Linked DNA regions of Homo sapiens. The protein of the gene in region 1 purifies or fractionates together with the protein of each later gene. This does not show direct contact. Each region holds a gene or a part of one and is shown on either strand. Other genes may lie near its edges.

The links.
Region 2: the proteins of IRX1 (region 1) and TRPC4AP purify together in Homo sapiens (affinity purification with mass spectrometry; one large-scale study listed by BioGRID and IntAct). This does not show direct contact.

The regions. Positions count from the first base shown.
Region 1 is NC_000005.10:3,594,186-3,598,633, forward strand, and holds the start of IRX1 (iroquois-class homeodomain protein IRX-1), read left to right. Parts: upstream 1-1,646; 5' UTR 1,647-1,920; coding exon 1,921-2,196; intron 2,197-4,448.
Region 2 is NC_000020.11:35,009,164-35,012,966, reverse strand, and holds part of TRPC4AP (short transient receptor potential channel 4-associated protein), read left to right. Parts: intron 1-2,678; coding exon 2,679-2,780; intron 2,781-3,788; coding exon of another isoform or gene 3,789-3,801; exon of another isoform or gene 3,802-3,803. UniProt on the Homo sapiens protein: Substrate-recognition component of a DCX (DDB1-CUL4-X-box) E3 ubiquitin-protein ligase complex required for cell cycle control.

The DNA.
Region 1 (4,448 bases):
ACAATCTGACTCAGAGCAGGGAAAAATCAAGCCCGATGTCGGAGCTGGTTATTAGTAATTACTACCATCACGGGCATTATTGTTGCTAATTATAGGCGATGTCTCAGTGTCTGTCCTCAGGCCCGGAAAACCGGAGCCCCTCCTGATGCTGCTGAAGTCCCTGGGCCTCGAGGCTCCGTGAAGAGAGGGAAGCGAGGCAGGGGGTGAAGGGACCGCCTGGCCGGTGTCCAGGATACGGGTGGCTCAAACCACCAGCAGAACAGCATGCCGACTCTGGCCCGATGGCCGCCTTCATCCCGTAGCCCCAACCCGGCCTAAAGCCGAGAAGACGCCAGAGTGCGCTGCTGAAATTCCCGCGGAGTCCGGTGTGCTGGAGAGCCGCAGCGGGGTGAACTCCCGGCCCCGTCTCTGCGTAGGAGGTGGTTCGCAAAGTGGCCCCGGGAGCCGGGACTGGTACCCGGTTCCCCACGGCACCGTCCGGAGCTCTCCAGCCACGAGGCGCAGAAGTGGCCTGCCAGCGCCTTCCCAGGCTCAGGGAGGCGAGGAGGCCCGTGCACTTGGCATCTTCTCCCGGGAGCCGCACGGCCAGGGCCGCGGCGAAACGGAGCCCATCTCAAGTGCGCCGCGCCTGGCCGCGTCCTGTAGCCCGACGAGGCTGAGGATGGAGAGGGGAGACGCAGGGAGAAGAGGGACGCGGGACTTGGACCCAAGAGGCCGCTCCGTTGCCGGTCTGGCGGCGGCGCCGACTCGGGTTCGCGCGTTCCACACAAGTTTCCTGTCTGCCTCTGCACACCTGGTGGACAAACCGGGCGTCCAGGCCACACCGTCTTCCCCCTTCGCGGGGGCGCGGGGGATGTTTCCCTCCGGCTGCCAGGGGGCTTTCTGGGTGAAGAGAAAGCCCCTCCCCCCGCGTCTCCCCCACCCCTCCCTCCGAGAACCCGCGGCGCCGACTGCGCCTGCTTCCCCCGAGCTGGCGACTTCTCCGCGGGATTTGCCCTCGCTCAAAGTTTGCACAATTGAAAGAGCCCGCAGAGCTCGGCCGCTCCCCGCTTCCCCAAGGGCGGCGAGGCCGGTCATTGGCAGACGATCGGTTACTACCCAGTAGGGGCCCACGGGAACCCGCATCTGGAGTCGGGGGTGTCACGCCACGCCGGTTCAGTGGCTCGCGGAGAGCGTCCGGGTGCACTTCTGCCAAAGATGTCCCCTGGAGGCCCCGGCCGCGCGGGACTCGGGGGAGAGGCCGCTCCCCCCTCGCTGTCACCAGCGTCCAGGCCGCCGGCCCCTTCCCCGCTGCCCAAACAGTAGAAAAGCAGGCGCCAAGTTGTTTTTGTTAAAAAGGGGACACACCTCGGCCGCGAAACTGCAAACCCGGTGTCAGACAGCTGTAAACCCGTGTCGACAGGTTGTCAGACAGCTGCGGGGGCTGGTCGGGAAGGAGCCCACGGCCTCCGGGCCCACACCCCGCCGCCCCGACGCGCGCGCCCACCGCGAGAGTAGCTGGCCGGGCCGGCACGGGGCACCACGTGCTCGCGGGAGGGGCGGGAGCGGCCGGCGAGGGCGGGCGGGAGGCAGGGAGGGGGCGGGAGGGGAGCCAGGGGCGGGGCCTGCGCTCAAGGGGATGCCAATCAAAGCATCAACTTCAAATTGTGTCTGAAAGCCCCGCCGCCGAGCGGAGGGCGGCCGCCGCAGTCGGCGCGCGATTGCGGATCCGGGCGCAGCCGGGAGCCGGGCGCCTGCGAGCACCGGGCAGAGGAGCCGCGACCGGCCTCCATCTCCCGGCCCGCCCGAGCGCGCCCGGCCGGCCGCCCGCTCCTCCCTAGACCCCTCGCGGCGCCCCCTGCAACCCCCTCCGGCCGGCCTCCGCCTCCCTCCCCGCGCCTTTAATACTCGCCCGCTGCGGCGGTCGCCGAGTCCGCGGACATGTCCTTCCCGCAGCTGGGCTACCCGCAGTACCTGAGCGCCGCGGGGCCGGGCGCCTACGGCGGCGAGCGCCCGGGGGTGCTGGCCGCGGCCGCTGCGGCGGCTGCCGCCGCCTCGTCGGGCCGACCGGGGGCCGCGGAGCTGGGCGGCGGGGCAGGCGCGGCTGCAGTCACCTCGGTGCTGGGCATGTACGCGGCGGCGGGGCCGTACGCGGGCGCGCCCAACTACAGCGCCTTCCTGCCCTACGCCGCGGATCTCAGCCTCTTCTCGCAGATGGTGAGTGCGCCCGGCCTCCCCCGCTTCTCCTCTGTCTCACCCGCGCCAGGGCAAGGGTGGCGGGTCGCCCGGGAGGGAGAGACTACGGGTGGACCTGGTCCGGAAGAGGAACTAGAAAGGTCCGGGGGCAGGTTCCCGGTGGCCGAGGCCGCGGCCCCCGGGGACGCAAGAGGGCTGGGAGGCCGGGCGGGTGACGGCTGGGCCATCTCGGCCTGGGAAAGCGGAAGGCCCGGGCCAGGGAGCGGGTAGCGAGTGAATTCAGAGAGGCCGCAGAAGCAGGCCCGTGGAGCGGTGCCCGCGCTGGAGGTCGGGGGCAAACTCGCCTGGCTCGGCCAGGGCGCCCGGGCAGGCCCACGGGGTTCCTGCAGGTCGGCCCGGCGTAGCGTAGCAGGACTTCCCTTCCTGGCCGCGGGTTCCACTCGCGCGGCCTCTTTAGTTTTCGAACCGAGTCTGGAAAACTTGGTTTTCTCCCTCTTTAGCAGCTCCGAGATAGTTGTATCCGAGTTTGCCAGACAGACCCCTTCTAAGCCTGGTAGAGTCAATCAAAATAATCTTAACAATAGAGGTCCAAAGGGATGGAGAGGTCTCTCCACGGCGTGAGTGCGAATTTGAGATTAAACAAAAATTAAGTTGCAGTAATGTGCTGGTGTCTGAAACGGTGTTTGATTTTACTTTTGTAAGTTGCCCAAGTTTTCATTTCATTTGCACAGAAAGAAAAGCACTTTTCTTCCTGCGTTACATAATGGAGGATTAAAGAAAACAGTGTCCCTTGGCTTAAAACAAATGGTGTCCTCTTAGTCTCCCGTCCCAGTGGGCGTTAGATGTCGGGGCAGGCGGCTGCACACTTAATTCTCCGCGGGGGCATTGGCCTGTCTGCCGGTCCAAATCATCCATTTTCCTTGGTCTGACTGCAAGGTCGGTGCTTAAACTTCGGACGGCTGGTGAATTGTGCGGCGGGCGCGGGGCCCTGGGAGGCAGCCCCCTCCTGGGTCGCTGCCCGCGGGATAAAGCAATTTCCAAGCACCCGCGATATCTCCCCGCTCCCCGCAGGAGAAGCGGGGAGTAAACGCCCCTCAAGTGTGCACAAGCAAAGAGCGGGTTTCCCTGTAACTTTTCTTGTAGTTTTGAAAGAAAGCGGCCCGGCTGCCTTTCAGGTCTCTTACTATCGAAAAAGATCAGCCCCCATTTTGTTCAGGCGGCGGGGAGGCCGGGACGCGATGAGAGATTTACAAGGTGTCCTTTCAAAAAGAATTCCCAGTGGAGACGAGGCTGAAACGTCTTCTTTACAATTACAACCAAAATAATTAGAAAAGCGCAAAGTACATTTTGGAACGATTGGGCAAAAACGAAATCTAGCCGCAGAAATGTTTTCTCTGCGGCCTCAGTCACCAAACTAATTAGTCCAAGAAATCTTCTGGTCTTTACAACTTTCTCAGAGTCCGGAACTCCCTTTGCTAACATTGCAACTAGACCATTTTTTCAGAGGATGAATATTTTTTACAGAAATTGCGAATGCAGTTGTGTGCCATTTGGGAACCCTGCCTGTGTTTGCGGGGGAGGGAGAGAGCTTCAGTGTGAGGACCTGCACCCTTTGTGGAGAGCTGGGGAAGGGAGATGTTTGCTGTTCTGAGTTGTTTTTCCCACCTAGAGGGATAATATGTAAAAATTATTCCCACCCAAAAGGTGTGTGTTTCTCCAGCTCTCCCACTGGTTCTGAGAGAGTAAACTCAAACCCAAACCCTGATTCTAGGCCTAGGTTTCCAAGCCATTATAATTGGGTGTTTGGAAGTCAAAAGATAAAATTGTATTTGAATGTCTGTCTGCGCAATTTATGGTAATAATGAGGCCTAATGAGGTTGTTAGAAAGATAAAATGTTATTTACCAAAAAACCTGATGGGATAATTTGACTTGCTGTGTTTTACTACTGATTATAAAAAGAATATCGATTGCAAATAAATCAGCGCCTCTAAATGCCTGCAAACAGCTAGTGTTTGCTCCCTCCAGATCAAAGTCAAACTTAAGAGATGAAGTAACTGAGAAGAGGCCTAGGATACTGAACCGGTTCCCCTCCTGGCCGCCGGTGGCTCCCAGCCCTTGCGTTAATATTTTACAGGCTAAGCCTTCCTTTTGTATTAAAAAAAAAAATGGTGTTTTTGTTATTGTTGTCGATGATGGCCGGGATTAAAATTTTAAATTACCTGTCACCTCTAAAGACCTTTTAATGTGGGTAAACCATTATATGCAGATTAAT
Region 2 (3,803 bases), on another chromosome or scaffold:
TCTTCGGAAGGCCTCGATCTCCTTGTCTGGTCCCTGACCTCAGCTCGAGAGGAGGCCCTGGAGCTGGTGGAAGCCCACTGTCCCCTCAGTGTTAGCAGGTGTGACACTGCAGTCGGACCTCCCGTCTTTCCAGACTTCCTTATGGCAGGCACTGCCCCAAGCTTTCTTCTAACCCTCATAGCCACCCCAGGAACTGAGTATGGAAGTCGTTGGCCCCTTACTACCTTTGGAATCAATGGATTTCTCAACCTACTGCCCCTCTAAAGCAAGAGTGGACAGCGTGGCTATTCCCAGGGGCCGGCAGGAACTTCAGACAGGCAAAGCCGACTGCTTACTGAGCAGCTGGAGGATTCTTCCCTCCACAAGGAGGTGTGCTCCCATTTTTCTTGAAAGACATTCTGCGCTCATTTATTTTTTAACCTTCGATGGAGAATGTACAAGGAAAATTACTCTCTGCTGTAAGGAAAACAGTGCAGGAAGGGGGTGACTAGCAGCTGACCCTTGACCTTGGCATTGGGGAGGTGATGTGGGGACCTTAGTGAACAAGAATTTCAGTGAGCTCAGCTCCAGCCAGCTGCGTGTGCACAGGAAACTGGGCCCACTGTTGCATAACTTCTGATTTTTTCTGCCAAGCAAAGGCAGAAATTAAGATTTATGTGAAAGGTCCTGATTTTAAATGTTGGTTTAAATATTTTAAAAACCTTGCATTTGAGCTAACAGAACATGCCTGGAGACAGCTGTGGCCCCAGGGCACCTCCATCATATGCACCCATCCTCTGTGAGAGGTTTTCCGGCTGAAAGCCATAGAAGGGCTCCAGGAAGCATGTTAACCTTCTGAAAAATGGCACCACATATGTTATGGAACTGTGCTGTTTTCCCTGAGGAAGTGAGTCTCTGGCTTTCATCAGACTCTTCAGTCTGAGTACTCTGTGGGATATCAGGATGAATGCAAACAGCCATGGCCCCTGCTCTCATGAAGGGCAGAGTCTGAAAACAGAGACAGTTGTTCATCCAAGGATTCCACCGTTGAGCATTAGTGATAAGTGGAGATGGTATTCAGGAGGAGAGGAACGGGGTCTGTGAGAGACATTTGACAGGGTCCAGGACTGGCCAGAGGACACTCAGGAACTCTCCCCTGCAGAAGTGGCTTGCCAGCCAAGACCTGAAGTGTCAGCTTGTAGTGAATTGAGTGAACAGGCATGTGAGAGGGTGTGTGTTCTAGCCAGAAGCCCCTGAACGAGGGAAGACCATTGTGGCCAGCTGATGGGAGTGATGTGGGCTTGGCTCTGGGCTGGGCTGCACAGGACGTTGTGGGTCACAGTCACAGGGTGTTGTGGGTCACAGTCACAGGCCTGGATTTTATATACAGATGGTCCACTTAGAATTTTTCAACTTCACAATGGTACAGAAGTAGAATTTTGAATTTTGATCTTTTCCTGGGCTCATGATAAACAGTTCAATACTCTTGCAATGCTGGGCACTGAGCTGCAGCTGCAGCTCAGAATGTATTTCAAGAAAAATGGTGACCAGCTACACGATCACCAAGGTAGACAACCAGTACTCTGTGCTGTGCCTGCCGTGTTGCCAGTGATTATGGCCAACTGTAGGCTGAAGTCAGTGTTCTGAGCACATTCCAGGTAGGCTAGGCTAAGCTAGGAGGTTCAGTGGGTTAGATATATTAAATGTGTTTTCTTTCTTTTTCTTTTTTTCAAGACGGAATCTTGCTCTATTGCCCAGGCTGGAGTGCAGTGGCATGATCTTGGCTCACTGCAACCTCCACCTTCTGGGTTCAAGCAATTCTACCTCAGCCTCCTGAGTAGCTAGGATTATAGGCGTGTGCCACCACGCCCAGCTAATTTTTTATATTTTTAGTAGAGATGGGGTTTCGCCACGTTGGCCAGGCTGGTCTCGAACTCCTGACCTCGTGATCCACCCGCCTGGACCTTCCAAAGTGCTGGGATTACAGACGTGAACCACCGCGCCCGGCCTCAATATGTTTTCAACTTAACGGCATTTTCAAATACGATGGGTTTATCAGGACATAACCTCCTCCTAAGTCAGGAAATGTCTGTTCTAAATGCAGTGGGAAGCTGTGGAAGTGTTTTCACCGGGAGTGACAGGATCAGAGTCCTGATTCTGAAGATCACTTTTGGCACCGTGTGATGACTCAGTTCCTGTGGGATACCTTTTAGTAAAGGGAGCTGGTGTCCTGGGAACACAGGACCCAGCAGTGACAGGCCTGGATGGCAAGTCGGGGGAAGTGTCACAGTTAACCAGGCCTCTGTGTGATGTGTGACCGTGGTGCTTGGTGGGACTGCTGCAGCAGGGCCAGGCTTGAGTGTGATTGGACCTGTTGAGGTGTTGGTGCCTTTGAGAAAACAAGTGGAAATGTAGGCAAAGAGAAAGGCCCAGAGCTGCTGAGGGAAGGGGCCTTGTCGATGAATGTGGCAGGCAGGGGTCGGGGATGGGGGTGGGGCCAGGGAGAGATTCCACTGCCTGAGAGCCCAGAGTTCCCTCCTGCAGGTGCTGGCTGGAGTGAGAGGTGCTAGAGGAAAGTGCCTGGTGGCTTCTCAGATTCTGTCCACAGGAAGTGGGCAGGAGACTCCCTACACTAGCCTGGTGCTGACCCAGCAGCCCCAGTTCCTGTCCTTTACCTCCTCCAACCCATTTTGTTTCAGGAACAAGTACTTGTTACTCAACAACCAGGAGCTGAATGAACTCAGTGCCATCTCTCTCAAGGCCAACATCCCTGAGGTGGAAGCTGTCCTCAACACCGACAGGTGAGTGCAGGGGTGCAGCTTTTCCCTCAGCCCATCCCGGCTGCCCACGTTCCCCGGGGGCTCACCGGTGAGCACATCCAGGTATGCACGCGTGTCCTCTCTCACATGCAGCTACAGTGTCCTGAGGGCTCCTGTGTGCCAGGCATTGTATTCATGTCACCTGCATTTTCTCATTGGAGCCTCACAGCAGCCCTAGGAGGGGAGCCCCATCAGTACCTGCACTTGACAGATGAGGTGAGCCTCAGAGAGGTCACCTGCCAGAAGTCATGTGTGCTCCGCACTGCCCCACCGCCTTGTCTCGTGCATTCAGCCCCTTTGCTTATGTGCTCCTTTCTTGCCTGGTGGCATCTGCAGCCAAGCAGGACAGACAGAAGCCTCTTACCTGCTGCCAAGTGTTAGGTTGCATTACCTGGGTTAGGTTTGCCTCACCTGGAGCCAGGCAGTGGGGGGCTAGTCTCACAGGCGTCAGAATACAGTGGACTTTATCCAACAAGAGCCATGATTTCCCAACCTTTTTTGTTTGTTTGTTTTGTTTTGTTTTTTAGACACAAGGTCTTGCTCTTTCTCTCAGGCTGCAGAGCAGTGGTGTTATAGCTCACTGCAGCCACAAACTTCTGAGCTCAAGTGATTCTCCTGCCTCAGCCGCCCGAGTAGCTGGGACTACAGGTGTGCGCCACCATTCCCAGCTAGTGTTTTTACTTTTTTTTTGTAGAGATGGGGTCTCACTATGTTGCCCAGGCTGGTCTCGAACTCCTGGCCTCAAGTGAGCCTCCCAAAGTCCAGGGATTACAGGTGTGAACCACCTCTCCTGGCCTCCCAATCTTTTTTTTCTAAGGTAGCAGAACTCTTCATTCAAATAAAATTGTACCCAGTCCTGCCCTGATGTCTGCAGTGGATCACAGCAGAGCTGCTCTGTTTGAAGGGCCCAGACCCCTGCGTGCCTGGCCGTCTTCCTTCCCCCATGACGGGGCCAGAGTCATTTCCTCATCTCCTGCCTTTGCTTCATAGACTGGGAAGCTGAGG